Linked DNA regions of Homo sapiens: all the other regions are linked to region 1. Evidence: fine-mapped expression QTL. A gene starts in region 1. Each other region holds a variant in brackets. All regions are shown on one strand. Distances are from middle to middle. Region 1 holds the start of RBP7 (retinol binding protein 7). Region 2 overlaps CTNNBIP1 (catenin beta interacting protein 1). Region 3 has its middle 12 kb from the start of UBE4B. Region 4 holds the start of PGD (phosphogluconate dehydrogenase).

Region 1 (4,160 bases):
GGCGTGAGCCACCGAGCCTGGCAAGAGTGGGTAACTTATAAAGAAAAAGAGGTTTAACTGCCGCAGTTCCACGTGGCTGGGGAAGCCTCAAAATCATGGCAGAAGGCAAAAGGCACGTCTTACATGGTGGCAGGCAAGAGAGAATGAGAGCCAAATGAAAGGGGAAACCCCTTGTAAAACCATCAAATCTCATGAGACATTCACTACCACCAGAACAGTGTGGGGAAAACTACCCCATGATTCAATTACCTCTCCTCAGGTCCCTCCCACAACACATGAGAATTATGGGAACTACAACTCCCATGAGATTTGGGTGGGGACACAGCCAAACCATATCACTTGGCATTTGAGGAAATAACAGTAGCAGGAAGGTCCCCCTCAGACCTTCTTTTGCCCCTCTTCCCTGAAGCAGGCCATAAAAGAATTCTCTGCTCTTCCTCTGAAGAAGATCATAAGACTCTCAAGTGAGAGGTGCTTTTCCCATACCCAGAGGAACACTCTTATCTCTTGGGATATGAAAGAGCAAAATAAATGCCCCTTTATCAACTAAGATGGGCCCTAAGGTTAAGAAAACAAAAATTGGCCGGTGCGGTGCCTCACGCCTGTAATCCCAGCACTTTGGGAGGCCAAGGTGGGCAGATCACGAGGGCAGATGTTCGAGACCAGCCTGGCCAACATGGTGAAACCCCGTTTCTACTAAAAAATACAAAAATTAGCTGGGCGTGGTGGCGGGCGCCTATAGTCCCAGCTACTCGGAGAGGCTGAGGCAGGAAAATGGCGTGAACCCGGTAGGCGGAGCTTGCAGTGAGCCGAGATCGTACTACTGCACTCCAGCCTGGGCAACAGAGCGAGACTCCGTCTCAAAAAAAAAAAAAAAAAAGAAAGAAAGAAAGAAAGAAAAAAAGAAAACAAAAATTGCCCACGGGTCAAGGGTTCAGGGATTGGCCGGCACGGCAACTTCCCAGATTCCTAAAGCTACAAGAAAAACTACACTCGTGGCAGGGCGCGTGGCTCACACCTGTAATCCCAGCACTTTGGGAGGCCAAGGCGGGTGGATCACCTGAGGTCAGGAGTTGGACACCAGCCTGACCAATATAGTGAAACCCCTTCTCTACTAAAAGTACAAAATTAGCCGGACGTGGTGGCTGGCGCACGCGTGTAATCCCAGCTACTTGGAAGGCTGTGGCAGGAGAATCGCTTGAACCGAGGAGGCGGAGGTTGCAGTGAGTTGAGAGTCCGCGCACCGTTGGCACCGCGATGAGGGCGGGAAGCACAGCGCGGGGCCCCCGGGAGCAAGAACGCCGCGGGCACCCAGCCCTCGTGGGAGGCGGCGGTCGGGGCACGCCCCGGGCCGAACCAGGCTCTGCACTCCCGCGGGTGCCCGGACCTGAAGGGTCGTCCGCTGGCTCCAGGATTCTGCATCCCCGACCCGCTCCGGGTGCGCCGAGGCTGCTGGGACTTCGCTGCGGGAGCGCGCCCGGGGCCCCGGGGCCTGCACGGAAGGCGGCTGCGGGGAGGGTGGCCGGGCAGAGGCTTCGGTCCCGGGCGCCCCCTCCCCGGCCGGACCCCCCTCCCCGGCCGGACCCCGAGTCTGCAGTCTCCGCAGGTGTGCCGCGTGCGGGTAGAGACGGACGTGGGGCTGGACGCGGGCACTCAGGGACGGACGGGTGGGGGACCGACGGCCGGGGGAACAGAGGGCGTGGAGAGACGGCCGTGGGGACAGGGGGGCGGGTGGGCGCGGGAAAGGACGGACTGGGGGACTGAAGGACTGGGGTCCCGCGCCCGATGGACGGAGGCGCCAAGGACCAGCGGACTCGGGGGCGACTGGGCGACGGTGGGCGCAGCAGGGCGGAGGCACGGACAGAGGACGTACCTACAGGCCCGGCCCGGCCGCCTTCGCCTGATCCCGAGACCCACGGCGAGCCTCGCGCCGCCGCCGCCTCCCCTCCGCCTTACCTAGGGCCAGCATGTAGCCCTCGAAGTTGTCGCTGCTGAGCAGGGTCCAAGTACCGCTGAGGTCGGCGGGCATGGTCGGGGATCGCGGGACAAACCCGGCGGGCGGCCGGAGGCTCGGGCCGGGACCTATAAACCAGGCGGGGCGGGGCAGGGGGGTGGGGCCGCGCGCGGGAGGAGCAGGTGGGGCCGCGTGGGTCCCACTCACCCCTAGAAGCCGCTGCGCTCCCGGCCGCCTCAGCCCGGTGCTCCTGGCTCTGCCCACCGCGCGGCAGCTTCCCCCTTTCCTTGGGGCTTCCTCTCCTACTGCTTTCTCATGTCCCAGACTGTTTCGGGCCACATTTTCTTCCCTGCTTATATGTTAATGACCCAGGGATGATCTTCAAACTCATGGCATTGAATATTGTCAGCTTCAATAACAATATACCTCTCAACGTAACTCTCATGGTCTCAATAAATAGGAGTTTATTTTTCTTAACAAGGAGTCCTGAGAGAAGTGATTGCTGGTGATGATTCGCACCTAGGAATCACAGTGATTCGCACCTCGGTAACGCCGCAGCTTCGTCTCTGTGACTCTGGTGGCCTTTTATTCCTGCTTGTTACCTCCTGGTCATGAGCTGGCAGCTGGGTTCCCAGCCAGGACATCCACATTCAAGGTAGGGAAGAGGGAAAGCACCAAAGGTCAGTATCCCTGCAGCACAAACCTCCCCATCTCCTATAAGTCTGGATAGTTGGAAAAAAGAAAAGAAATTACCCAGCAGGTTTCTGTGTACATTTCATTAGCCAAAACTGTATCAATGCCACTTCTAACTGCAAGGGGGCCTGGGGATTCTAGTCTGCAGCATTTAGCCTCAGAGCAGAGAAAAGCAAAGGAGAAGGGGTGGGAATATGGGCTAACCTACAACATTAGCCACAAACACCGCCTAGATATGCTGGCTCCAAGACTGACTTATTGATTTTATTTTTATTTTTTTTCTTTTGAGACAGAGTCTCACTCTTTCTTTTTTCTTTTTTTTTTTTTTTTTGAGACGGAGTCTCGCTCTGTGCCCAGGCTGGAGTGCAGTGGAGAGATCTCGGCTCACTGCAAGCTCCGCCTCCGGGGTTCACGCCATTCTCCTGCCTCAGCCTCCCGAGTAGCTGGGACTACAGGCGCCCGCCAACACGCCCGGCTAACTTTTTATATTTTTATTAGAGACGGGGTTTCACCGTGTTAGCCAGGATGGTCTCGATCTCATGACCTTGTGATCCGCCCGCCTTGGCCTCCCAAAGTGCTGGGATTACAGGCCTGAGCCACTGCGCCCGGCAGAGAGGGAGTCTCACTCTATCGCCCCGGGCTGGAGGGCAGTGGTTCCATCTCGGCTCACTGCAACCTCCGCCTCCCAGGTTCAAGTGATTCTCCTGCCTCAGCCTCCCGAGTAGCTGGGATCACAGGTGCCCATCACCATGCCCAACTAATTTTTTGTATTTTTAGTGGAGATGGGGGTTTCATCATGTTGGCTAGGCTGGTCTTGAGCTCCTGACCTCGTGATTCGCCTGCCTCAGCCTCCCAAAGTGCTGGGATTATAGGTGTGAGCCACCGCACCCGCGGTATTTATTTTTTCATTTATTCTTTTTATTTTATTTTATTCTATTTTATTTTTTGAGACAGACTCTCACTCTGTCGCCTAGGCTGGAGTGCAATGGTGCAATCTTGGCTCACTGCAACCTCCGCCTCTTGGGTTCAAGCAACTCTCCTGCCTCAGCCTCCTGAGTAGCTGGGATTACAGGTACCTGCCACCATGCCTGGCTAATTTTTATATATTTTAGAAGAGGTGGAGTTTCACCATGTTGGCCAGGTAGGTCTCGAACTCCCAACCTTAAAAGATCCACCCACCTAAGCTTCCCAAAGTGCTGGAATTACAGGCATGAGCCACCACACCCAGACTGACTATTTTTTGAGATAGAGTCTTGCTCTGTTGCCTAGGCTGGAGTGCAGTGGTATGATCATGGTTCACTGTAGCCTCAACCTCCTGAGTTCAAGTGATCTTCCTGCCTCAGCCTTCTAAGTAGCTACAACTACAGGCATGTGCCACCATGCCTGACTAATTTTTTTAATTTTTTATAGAGATGGAGTATCCCTGTGTTGCCGGCGGTTGGTCTCAAACTCCTAGGCTCAAGCAACCCTCCAACCTTGGCCTCCCAAAGTGCTGGGATTACAGGTGTAAGCC
Region 2 (4,160 bases), 130 kb after region 1:
GGCTCTGGACTTCTCTCCTGGGGACTTTCTACAGGTTAGGTCCCTGCTGCATGTGGACACGCTGCTGGCCTTCCCAGCTGCCTGCAGGAGCTACCCTCTGACAGGTGGGGTGGGTTTGTGAGGGCTGAGGTAGCAAGCCCTGCAACCCTGGGCCAGCGTCTTTCCATCAAGGGACCCCTTGGAGCCCAGCCCAGGAGCCACAACCCTGGCCTCTTAAACTTGTCAGGGGCTTTTGCCGAGGGAGCTGTCTCAGTGTTTGGGGGCTGGGCACTGATCTCACAGTTTCTCGAGCCAAAGGCCCTAACCAGTTGCCTCTGATCCCATCACTTTTTTGCCCCTTGTGGAAGTTGTTCTGAAAACCTGGGACATTTGGGGCTTCATGCACCACGTGTCCTGTGGCTTGTAGCAGGAGCTTTGCTCTGGGGTGATTCACAGGTAGAAACAACCAGCAGTCCAGGTCATCTCAGTTTTCCTGGACGCAGCAGCTTCATGCACAGAGGCAGCAGGCAGGCCAGCCCTTGCAGCGCCTGCTGGAGAACAGAGCTGCTCAGTTCAGCCTGCTGGGACCAGCATGGGTGAGAAAGGAACCCAGCACCTCGCCACCTGCCCCATGCTCCCAGAAGGGAGACTGTGGGTGGAAAGCGGCTCCTGGGAGGAGTGAGGGTCACTAGCAGGTGTCATTGTCCCAGTATGTCACATCCTGATCTCTTCCCTTTTGATGCTGTTGCTTGCTCTGCAGGAGTCCCCAGAGCCAGGCAGGGGGATGAACCGCGAGGGAGCTCCCGGGAAGAGTCCGGAGGAGATGTACATTCAGCAGAAGGTCCGAGTGCTGCTCATGCTGCGGAAGATGGGATCAAACGTGAGTGCCTGTGGGGTGTCAGGCAGCGGGCCCCCAGGGAGGGTCTCCCAGGGAGGGGCCCTGCTGGGCTATTGGAGGGTGGAGCCACTGCGGCTGCCTCCTGCGGAGCCACGGGCTGAGGAGGGGCCGCTGGGCCTGTGGCTTGGCTCTAGGGCTGCTTCTGGCCCCCTAGGCACAGAGCCCAGCACGTCAAGTTCTGGGGACACCCGACACTGCCGGATTGGGGCCAGGCGGGTGAGGGTCTCAAGGCCCTGACCTTCCTTTTCTCCCCCTCACAAGCCCGAAAGTCTTCTCTCCCAGGGGGCAGCTCAGGGACAACTTGTCAGGACAGGAGCTGAGGGGGCAGCAGGCATGCATGTGCAGGGGTATTTCTCAAAAAGAGTGGAGGGACATGGAATCGCCCCTCAGCCTTCCGGGCAGGACTTGTGTCTTCCACTGGCCCTATACTAGAACAGACCTTAATCTCAGATTCAGTCTGAGTGGCAAAGGCTTTGGACCCCTGGACCAAGTTTAAGGAGGGTGGGAGTGGGGTGGGCTGGCCCTGAAAGCAAAGGGGTCAAATCTCAGAAACAGAAGCCCGAGCAGGGACCAAGCAGGGACCAAGCAGGCCTAGGCGGTGCCTCTAGGGGTGCAGGTGCCTTTCAGGGAACAGGTGCATGCTGCCCCTCACCACAGCTCTCTCACCCTGCAGCTGACAGCCAGCGAGGAGGAGTTCCTGCGCACCTATGCAGGGGTGGTCAACAGCCAGCTCAGCCAGCTGCCTCCGCACTCCATCGACCAGGGTGAGTTGGCGGCAGAGGGGCTGGGGCAGTGGCACAAGTCCCAGGGGCACCGACTTGTGGTTCCCTTAGAAAGCGTAGCTCCAGCCCTCTTTGATGGGTGATCCATGAGACCCAGGGCTGACTAGGAGGGGCTACAGCTCTCTCCACCCACAGAGCTGAGCCAGGAAACCTTCGGAGCCTCCCACCTGATCCCATCTCCTTCCTCAGGTGGGAGCCAAAGACTCTACAAGACAAATGGCAGGATCCCTTTCTAAGGCCTGGAAGAGGCAGGAAATGGAGATGTCTGGGGGCGCTCATAACTGCAGAGACTGATTATTGCATTTCTTTAACCTTTGGCCTGACCCCTACCCACCCAGCACCCTGTCCAGGAGAGAGAAACTGCCCTTGTGTGCTAGAACAATGCTGTCACTGTTGTCCTGAGCACAGACCACATTGTGGCTGGTGTGGTCCTGGCTGTGGCCAGGAGGAATGCCCCAAAGGCCTGATGTCTCCGTGCGCCTGAGGGAGTTCTGTCTTTTTGGGGTGACCTCAACAAGTCAGCATGGTAACAGGCAGGATGTGAGTGTTTGTTGTGTAGCAGGCACC[G/A]TTGTTTCATTCTATTGTAGGTAGCTACTATTTGTATTATTAATACTTCCACTTAACAGGCAAGGAAACTGGGATTTGGGAACAGTAAGCCACTTGGTCATGCAGCCAGGTGGTTACTGGGGAGTCCCGGGATGTACACCTGTGGCTGAGGAGCGCTTCACTGTCTGCCATCTTGCCCATAACCCACATGGCTACTGGACAGCTCCATGTCCCTTGGCTGCTCAGCAAGGTTCTCCTTCTCTAGAAGGCTTCTCATGACACAGAGGCCTAGTATTCTGACCAGCATCTCCATAGAGTCCTTTCCTTTTATTCTCTTTATGCTTTGTTGGAATGATTGGCCATGAAATATTACAACCTGTGGCATGTCCAGACGCGAGCGGGCCCCCGAAAGCAGAGTGCTGACGGCTGCGTTTGCTGTGCTTTGAGGCTGGCATGCGGGGCCTGACCTAGATCACCAGCCAGCCCTTGTTCTCCTGGATGTCTTAGGGCTCTGTCCTGGCACAGGGGCCTGTTCCCAAGCACCGATGCTGGGTGTGACCTGGCTTGTGCACCCAACTCAGCAGAAACCTTCCAGGCAGTGGCTCAGGCAGCTCCCTGGGACAGCAGCTCACCACGCACAACCTGCCTGGGTGTGTCTGCCCAGGTGTGCCTCCTGGATCATGCGGCAGCCTGTTCTATGTGGCGTCGGCTCCCGCCCCATCCTGGGATCTCTTGGGTGAGGTCTCTTCTCTTCCAGGGCTAATCTGGGTTTCTAGCATGGCACCCTCTACCATGGCTTCTGACTCATGTCAACCTGAAACCTTCAGGCTTCTGAGTCCCTGGAGACTCACCTTCCTTCCCACTTAGTCTTGGTCACTGAGTTAACCTGAATTTGAGCTCGGATGGTAAGAAAGCCTCCAGTTGAATACTCTTGGGAAAAAATCAAAATAGGAGACATCAAAATGTAGGACCATATGTCAGTATAAAAAGCAGCAACAGGCCGGGTACGGTGGCTCACAGCTGTAATCCCAGCATTTTGGGAGGCCAAGGCAGGTGGATCACCTGAGGTCAGGAGTTCTAGACCAGCCTGACCAACGTGGCGAAACCCCATCTCTACTAAAAATACAAAAGTTAGCTGGGCATGGTAGCATGCAGGTGTAATCCCAGCTACTTGGGAAGCCAAGATCTCACCGCTGCACTCCAGCCTGGGCAGCAGAGCAAGACTCCGTCTCAAAAAACAAAACAAAACAAAACAAAACCCCAGCAACAACACACATACACACAAGACACAAGCTGTATATGCACATAGAAAAAAAAGCTGGTGGCCAGGTGCAGTGGCTCACGCCTGTCATCCCAGCACTTTGAGAGGCCATGGCAAGAGGATTGCTTGAGCCCAGGAGCTCAAGACCAGCCTGGGCAACATAGGGAGACCCTCTCGCTACAAAAAATACAAAAACTAGCTGGCTGTGGTGGCACACGTCTGTAGTCCTAGCTACTAGGGAGGCTGAGGTGAGAGGATCGCTTGAGCCCAGGAGGTTGATGCTGCAGTGAGCCATGATCGCACCACTGCACCCCAGCCTGGGCAACAGAGGGAGACTCTGTCTCATAAATTTAAAAAATTTTTAAAAGACAAAGAAGCTGGTGGAATATATACCAGACTGTCAGAAATTTTGTTTTTGACAAGGGGTGCTGGGCGTGGTGGTTCATGCCTGTAATCCCAGCACTTTGGGAGGCCAAGGTGGGCAGATCACCTGAGGCCAGGAGTTCAAGACCAGCCTGGCCAACATGGCAACATCCTGTCTCTATTAAAAATACAAAAATTAGCTGAGCATGGTGGCAGGTGCCAGTAGTCCCAGCTACCCAGCTACTTGGGAGATTAAGGCAGGAGAACCGCTTGAATCTGGGAGGCGGAGCTTGCGATGAGCCAAGATCACACCACTTTACTCCAGCCTGGG
Region 3 (4,160 bases), 24 kb before region 1:
CTGTAATCTTTATGTTGCCCAGGCTGGTCTCAAACCCCTGGCTTCAAGTGATCCTCCTACATCAGCCTCCCAAAGTGCTAGGATTACAAGTGTGATCTTTAAACACATACTAACTTGGCTGGGTGAGGTGGCTCACGCCTGTAATCCCAGCACTTTGGGAGGCTGAGGCAGACAGATCACGAGGTCAGGAGATCAAGACCATCCTGGCCGACATGGTGAAACCCCGTCCCTACTAAAAATGCAAAAATTAGCCGGGCATGATGGCATGTGCCCGTAGTCCCAGCTACTCAGGAGGCCAAGGCAAGAGAATCGCTTGAACCCGGGAGGCAGAGGTTGCAGTGAGCCGAGATCATGCCACTATACTCCAGCCTGGGCAACAGAGCGAGACTCTGTCTCAAAAAAAAAGGAGTTGAGATCAGCCTGGGCAACATGGTAAAACCCCATCTCTACTAAAAATACAACAATTAGCCAGGTGTGGTGGCGGGCGCCTGTAATCCCAACTACTTGGGAGGCTGGGGCACAAGAATCCCTTGAACCCTGGAGGCGGAGGTTGCAGTGAGCCAAGATTGCACCACTGCACTTCAGCCTGGGTGACGGAGCGAAACTCCATTACAAAAAAAAAAAAGACTGTTTTGCAAACTCTCCTAAAGATTGCACCCAGAAGTTATAATGAAATCCTTATGAGCAGGTCGAGGAAATATCAAAAGCAAAACTCTTATCTGTGGAGAACCGAAGACTCTTAAGGGCAAGAAACTGAGGGAAAATAATCTGCTACAAAAGGTCTCAGGAAATAAAGATTCTTGCTGTGGACAGAAACAAAGAGAATATTAAAAAGTATTCATTATAGGCCAGGCACAGTGGCTCACGCCTGTAATTCCAGCACTTTGGGAGGCTGAGGCAGGTGGATCATGAGGTCAGGAGTTCGAGACCAGCCTGGCCAACATAGTGAAACCCCCATCTCTACTAAATACACAAAAATTAGCCGGGCGTGGTGGCCCATGCCTGTAATTCCAGCTACTCAGGAGGCTGAGACAGGAGAATCGCTTGAGCCTGGGAGGCGGAGGTTGCAGTGAGCCAAGATCACGCCATTGCACTCCAGCCTGGGTGACAAGAGCAAGACTCCATCTCAAAAAATAAAGTATTCATTATAAATATATTGACTGAATTTCACTGTCTGAGACTCCATATGAAAAGGCTAGGCCGGGTGCAGCGGCTCATACCTATAATCTCAGGACTTTGGGAGGCCGAGGCAGATGGATTGTATTAGAAACGGCAACCAAGAGACATATTAATTCATTTTTAAGATAAGCCTATTACATGCAGAGTGGCCTTGTTTGACATTTTTGCAAATCTCTTTAATGTCTGGCTTAATAGAAGACAGCTGAATTCTCAGATGTACTTCTGGGTCAGGTCAGTTGTGATGTGGCCTGGCAGGAAGTCTCTGGAAAACTCCCATATGCTCATGAGAGAGAGAGAATGAAGAGCAAATATCATCTCAGGATTATTATGAAAATAGCTTTGATCTCACAGATACCCTTAAAAGGTCTCGGGATCCCCGGGTCCTCAGATCACGGTTTGAGAACACTGTCCATTGGGGGCATAATCCATTTGCCATCAGTTTGTCACATACCTCCAGCAGGCCAAGGTGGGCAGATCACCTGAGGTCAGGAGTTCGAGACCAGCCTTGCCAACATGGTGAAACCCCCTGTCTACTCAAAATGCAAAAATTAGCTGCGCGTGGTGGCAAGTGCCTGTAATCCCAGCTACTTGGGA[A/G]GCTGAGGCAGGAGAATCCCTTGAACCCAGGAGACAGAGGTTGCAGTGAGCTGAGATTGTGCCACTCCACTCCACCCTGGGTGACAGAAAGAGACTCTGTCTCAAACAGAAATAGAAAAAAAAGAAAAAGAAAAAGAAAAGCCTATAAAATAATAGTTGTCAGCACATGGTCTCTAGGGAACTTTTTGGAGTGATTGACTTGTTCTGAAACTGGATTGTAGGAATGGTTGTACACCTATGTACATTTACTAGAAATTATCAAATTGTACACTTAGGTGCATTTTATGGTACATAAAATATACCTCAATAAAGCCATTAAAGAAAAACAACTCAAGTCCAACAGAGTCCAAAAGTAAAAAAAGAAAAAGAAAAACTCCAAGAGTCATATTCCAAAAAATTAAATTTTTATTACAAGGGGCCACACTTGTAATCCGAGCATTTTGGTAGGCTGAGGTGGGTGGATCACTTGAGGCCAGGAGTTGGAGACCAGCCCAACCAACATGGCGAAACAAAAATACAAAAATACTAAAAATACAAAAATTAGCTGGCCATGGTGGTGGTGCACACTTGTAATCCCAGCTACTAGGGAGGCTGAGGCAGGAGAATCACTTAAACCCGGGAGGTGGAGGTTGCAGTGAGCGGAGATTGCACCACTGCACTCCAGCCTGGATGACAGAGTGAGACTCTGTCTCAAAAAATATATATATATTAAAGCAGAATTGAAATGCTATTTCTCCTCCTCTTCCTCTCCTCCCTTCCTCTCCCTTTTTCCCCCCCTTTAAGGGCATCCAAAGTATGTGGATCATGGAAGTGCCTGCTTTGAAGATCTTTCTTTGCTAAGGATGAAGCTTCCAAGCTGGTTGTGCTGAAGGGCCAACATCTGGTAGTAATTTCATGAAAGGATTTTTTTTTTTTTGAGATGGAGTTTCACTCTTGTTGCCCAGGCTGGAGTGCAATGGCATGGCGCTATCTCTGCTCACTGCAACCTCTGCCTCCCGGGTTCAAGCAATCCTCCCCCCTCAGCCTCCTGAGTAGCTGGGATTACAGGAATCTGCCACTTTGCCCGGCTTTTGGTATGACCTAGAAACTTGTTTTTTGTTACAATACTTCTCAGTGTCAGAATAATATATATTGAATTCATCACTCATTTTTATGGTTGTTTCATATTCTCAGGACCTAGTAATAATAATAATAGTGAACTTCCAGGAATATATACTGAACCGAATTCAATCTAAGCAATTATGATTAAATACTTGTAAAAGTTAACTATAGTAAACCTCAGAGAAGATAGCCTCTTGCTTTTTTTTTTTTTTCATAGAGATAGGGTTTTGCTCTGTTGCCCAGGATGAAGTGGAATGGTGCGATCATGGCTCACTGTTGCAACCTTGAGCTCCTCAGACTACAGGGATGTGTCACCATGCGTGGCCAGCCCCCTGAGACAGGGTCTTGCTCTGTTGTCCAGTCTGGAGTGCACTGGCACAATCTTGGCTCACTGCAGCCTCAACTTCCTGGCTTAAGCTATCCCCTCACCTCAGCCTCTGGAGTAGCTGGGACTACAGGCATGGACCACCACACCCAACTAATTTTCTATTTTTTGTAGAGACGGGGTCTCAGTATGTTGTTCAGGCTGGTCTCCAACTCCTGGGCTCAAGGGATCCTCCTGCCTCAGCCTCCCAAAATGCTAGGATTACAGGTGTGAGCCACCATGCCCAGCTACCTCTTGTATTTTGAAATGACAAAAAGACCTTTTACATATTATATTTTCTCACTTGTTTTGTTCTACCATTCCTAAATGTCTTTCCAAACTGTAGTTTGTATCATGTAGTAAAGTTTAATGAAATATATATTTGGTCTTTTTCCCTGGTTCTGGCACAGGGCTCCTAAATTCCTTGGAATTTCCTGAGTGATAGGATTGTCTTTTGCTATTCATAAGGAGCCCCTTTAGAACACACCAGAGTCTATGCTAATGATGTGACTCAGGGTTGGGGCTGCTCACCAGAAAGACCAAATTAGAGGACTTTGATTAGAGGGTGGAAACAGCCCCACCCCAACCTCCTGGGAGGGAAGGGGGCTGGAGATGGAGCTCTATGAAAACTCCTGAACAAGGAGGTTCAGTGAGCTTCAGTACCAGTGGAGGGTGTCCAGGTTTTTGGCATTTTGAACAAAGAATTTAACAAGGGCCAGGTGCGGTGGCTCACGCCTGTAATCCCAGCACTTTGGGAGGCCGAGGCGGGCAGATCACGAGGTCAGGAGATTGAGACCATCCTGGCTAACATAGTGAAACACTGTCTCTACTAAAAATACAAAAAATTAGCCGGGCGTGGTGGCGGGTGCCTGTAGTCCCAGCTACTCGGGAGGCTGAGGCAGGAGAATGGCATGAACCTGGG
Region 4 (4,160 bases), 400 kb before region 1:
GGCACAATCTCAGGTCACTGTAACCTCCACCTCCCAGGTTCAAGTGATTCTCATTCCTCAGCCTCCCGAGTAACTGGGATTACAGGCATGAGCCACAAAGCCCAGCTAATTTTTATATTTTTAGTAGAGACGGGGTTTCACCATGTTGGCCAGGCTGGTCTCGAACCTGGGACCATAAGCTTGTAGCTGGGACCATAAGCTTACACCACCATACCCAGCTAATTTTTTAATTTTATGTAGAGACAGGGTTTCGCCATGTTGCCCAGGCTGGTCTCGAACTCCTGGGCTCAAACGATCCATCTGAACCAGCCTCCCAAAAAGTGCTGGGATTACAGGCCTGAGCCACTGTGCCCCGCCTTAATGTTTATTGAAATGTCTGTTAGTATTCTCAGAATTACTACCACCAAAGGACAAAGTTACTTCATAAGCGCTTATCAAGTTAACCAACACTGCAACAGTTAAGCAATCATTTGGTCAGAGCTTAGCAGAAATTGAAAAAAAAAAATCTCTAGAGTTAAAAGAAGGAGAACTAAAGGAAGAAACCAAAAACAGCTGCTATCGTGGTAGCAGCTGAGAGCACAGCTGGCCTCACCAATTTCTCGATGAAATCATCCACAGCTTGCCCAGCCTTCACCAGGAGGATGATCCGCCGGGGCTTCTTCAGCTTGGAGACCATCTCTTTCAGGGACTGGGCACCCACCACTTTGGTTCCCTTTGCCTCATTGGCCAAGAAATCATCAACTTTGGAGACAGTCCTATTAAAAGCACAGACCTAGAAGGACAAAAGTCCTGAGTAGGAGATCCAGGACACACAAGACTTTCAGACTGTGGCCAAAGTAACAATGACCTTTCCATTCAACCCAAGTTCTGGGGAGGTCAGACCTGCCTTTGCCTTTTCTTCCCCCAGCTGTGGGAGGCTCACTGTAAAGTTATGTCACCTCAGTAGGATGAAAACGGCGGACAACCGAGGCGAAGGCCAACTACCCCCGGTGTGTCAGGTAGAATCCACACCCAACGTGTTAGGACTCAAAATCAAATCCAGGAACTGGCCGGTTCAACAGGCTCTATCTGTTGTTATTGATCATCCTGGCGTCTAAGCCACTTTAACATTTAGAAGAAACATTTTCACTCTCCCCAGATCTCATCAGGCAATCAAGTTAGAGCTCTACACAGCCAGCAAGGGTTCTCCTCCCGCACCCTTCTTCTCTACTTAAGACACTAATTCGTTCATTCGGGCTGTGAACCTCACGGACCCACAGGCACACTCCGCAGGACTAAGTTCGGGATCGGCCCGCCCACGCCTACAGGGTGCTTCTCCTTTCCATACAAAAATGCCACGAGCAGCAACAGAGCACATTAGCAAAGCACGGCCAGGAGACCCGTAAGCTCCCAAACCTATCGCCGGCCTCGGCTAAAGCGCCCGGGAACCAGAGAGAAGACAACGCGCCCACGCCGCTTACCACAAAGCCGTGGTCATTCATGTTCAGAATTAAGTTCTGGCCCATGACGGCCAATCCGATCAGCGCGATGTCAGCTCTAGAGAGGCAGAAACAGAACAAAGGAAAGAGTCAGCACCGCTCGACGCGCTGCAACCCAGGGGTCCGGTCCTTCCACATTTGGCCGTGACTGGGAGTCTGCACTTTCCTCCGCGCCTCCCGCGGGCCCCCAGAAGCCGGGCGCGCACGCTGCAGAGCCTCGGCCGGGCAGGCGGCCCCCAGCCCCGCCCTCGCGCCCGGCTCCCGCTGGCACGCGTCCCGCAGGTGTCCCTGCAGACTCGGCGAGGCCTGGCCGCGCCTCCTCCCTGGCCCTCGAAGGGACCCGCCCCGCCCCATGCCTGCGCGGCCGAGAGGGCAGGGGGCCGGGCCCGCAGGGAAGGAGCTCTGGGCCCGAGACGCCGTAGGGCCAGGGTCACAGAGCCCCAAGTGAGCTCAGGCGACCCCCAGGGTGGGA[G/A]GCGTCGGAGAGAACGAGGGAGATCTCGACCCCCAAAGAGTTCCCCGCCCGCTGAGGCCGAGCCGGGCTGCCCCTGGCGAGTCACTCACTGGGCCATGGCGGCGGACAGAGCAGAACCGAAGAGCGGCGACGCGCGGAGGACGAGTGAGGGAAAGACCCGCAGCGGCTCCCTCCAGAAACTGCGGCCGCTCACGCCCGGCTTTTCGGCGCCGGCCAATCGAATGGAAGGGGGTGGAGCCATGAAGCCACACCATTGGCTCTCCCCGACGCCTGTTAGACCATCCGAGGCAAACGTGCCCGCCCACCCCCGGGGGCCGGATCAGTGGAGCGCCGAGCACCTAGATGACATTGCCCCGGCGAGGCTCCGGGCTCCCCGCCCACGCGCAGAGCTTTCCGCTCGTCCCAGCTGCACCTCGGTCCTGCAGGCCGTCCGCCTGGCGCAGCTGTAGCCATAGCAACTCACGCAGGACCGCGCTTTACAGTTTACCAGGCACTCGGACGCCTTTGGCGCGAGCGCCCGTCGCTCCTTCCTCAGGTCACTGCGGTGCACCGTGCGGGTCCGCGTCGTGTCCTCCGCTCCGGAGCAGGGACCGGGCGTGCTCGTTCAGTCCTGTGCGCACTCGGAATGGGGCCGGGGAAGGCTGAGCCTCAGGGCGACCCTGATGTGGAGCCGTGCGACCGCTCACTGCGGTTGAAGAGACCCAGGCGCAGACAGCGCAGGCGGGGTATGTATTGGTTGGAGTATGATGGGGTCAGGACTTGAGTCTTTTACCCAGGCCCGGAGTTAACGGTATTGAACCCCTTCTCATTTTGTAGAGGCTATGTGACCCGCGAGATGGACCAGGTTAAATGCAGAGGCAGATACAAAAAACCAGCCATCTTAAGCCAGACATTTGCAAAGTAGCCAAGCAGCGCTTCTTATCTTACTGAGTCCCTTCTTGCTAGGAGGAAATTGTTATTCAGAAGTTTGAGTTTTAGATTTTTTTTGTTTTTTTTGAGACGGAGTCTCGCACTGTCGCCCGGGCTGGAATGCAGTGGTGTGATCTCAGCTCACTGCACCTTCCGCCTCCCGGGTTCAAGCAATTTTCCTGCCTCAGCCTCCCAAGTAGCTGGGATTACAGGCGCCCGCCACCACGCCCAGCTAATTTTTGTATTTTTAGTAGAGATGGGGTTTCACCATCTTGGCCAGGCTGGTCTCAAACTCCTGACCTCGTGATCCGCCCGCCTTGGCCTCCCAAAGTGCTGAGATTACCGGCGTGAGCCACCGTGCCCGGCCTTTTTTTGATGTCATTGTTGAGATGGAGTCTGGCTGTGTCTCCAGGCTGGAGGGCAGTGGCGCGATCTGGGCTCACTGCAACCTCCACCTCCCAGGTTCAAGCGATTCTCCTGCCTCAGCCTCCCAAGTAGCTGGGACTACAGGTGTGTGCCACCATGCCCAGCTAATGTTTTTATTTTTAGTAGAGACAGGGTTTCACCATGTTGGCCAGGCTGGTCTCGAACTCCTAACCTCAAGTGATCCACCCACCTCAGCCTCCCAAAGTTCTGGGATTAGAGGTGTGAGCCACTGTGCCCGGCCGGTTTTTAATTTTTATAAAGACCAGGTCTTTGCTCTGTTGCCCAGGCTGGAGTGCAGTGGCATGACCATAGCTTACTGCAGCCTTGAACTCCTGAGGTCGAGCAATCTTCTAGCCTCAACTTCCTGAGTAGCTAGGACTACAGGCATGCAACACCATGCCCGGCTAAGACATCCTACTTTAAAATATGTCAAACTTCACAGCACAGTTCTTTTTTTAAAATACAGATTTAATGAGATAATTTACATGTCATACAATTCAAACATTGTAAGTACACATTTGGATGACCTTTAATTTATACTGTTGTGTAGCCATCACCATAATCCACTTATAGAAAACTTCCATCACCCCAAAACGTTCCCTTGGGCCTATTTGTAGTCAGTCTCTGCTCTCACCCCCAGCCAACCTCTGATCTACTTTGCATGGTTTTTGCCTTTTCCAGAAATTTCATAGAAATGGAATAATAGCATATAATTTTTTTGGTCTGGCTTCTTTCACTTAGCATCACGTTTCTGAGGCTCATCTGTGTTGTAGGTATGAGTGGTTTGTTCCTTTTCATTGCTGAGTGGTATTCCATTAATGCAATTGTGTCATCATTTGCTTATCCATTTATCTGTTGATAGACATTTGGATTGT

The links.
Region 2: its variant is fine-mapped to the expression of RBP7 in whole blood (TOPMed, PIP above 0.99).
Region 3: its variant is fine-mapped to the expression of RBP7 in whole blood (TOPMed, PIP 0.95).
Region 4: its variant is fine-mapped to the expression of RBP7 in whole blood (TOPMed, PIP above 0.99).

The regions. Positions count from the first base shown.
Region 1 is chr1:9,995,128-9,999,287 of GRCh38, reverse strand. RBP7 (retinol binding protein 7) reads right to left here and starts at 2,060. Exons shown (of 4, transcript NM_052960.3): 1 at 1,957-2,060. The coding sequence starts at 2,029. LOC124903840 (basic salivary proline-rich protein 2-like) reads left to right here and starts at 1,199. Exons shown (of 2, transcript XM_047436754.1): 1 at 1,199-1,606; 2 at 2,436-2,569. The coding sequence starts at 1,258. The coding sequence ends at 2,569. It also overlaps a transcript of NMNAT1 not described here. RefSeq lists a silencer at 111-311.
Region 2 is chr1:9,868,668-9,872,827 of GRCh38, reverse strand. CTNNBIP1 (catenin beta interacting protein 1) reads left to right here. Exons shown (of 6, transcript NM_020248.3): 4 at 740-859; 5 at 1,551-1,641. The coding sequence starts at 764. Among named protein-coding and RNA genes, the nearest start is that of CTNNBIP1-AS1, 22 kb to the right of the region's middle. RefSeq lists enhancers at 1-545, 546-1,474. The variant G/A (reference allele first, on the strand shown) is at 2,227.
Region 3 is chr1:10,019,338-10,023,497 of GRCh38, reverse strand. No RefSeq gene overlaps it. Among named protein-coding and RNA genes, the nearest start is that of UBE4B, 12 kb to the left of the region's middle. The variant A/G (reference allele first, on the strand shown) is at 1,774.
Region 4 is chr1:10,397,005-10,401,164 of GRCh38, reverse strand. It overlaps PGD (phosphogluconate dehydrogenase), which reads right to left and starts at 2,101. Exons shown (of 13, transcript NM_002631.4): 1 at 2,040-2,101; 2 at 1,461-1,536; 3 at 593-772. The coding sequence starts at 2,047. RefSeq lists silencers at 1,335-1,511, 1,604-1,923 and an enhancer at 2,404-2,713. The variant G/A (reference allele first, on the strand shown) is at 1,951.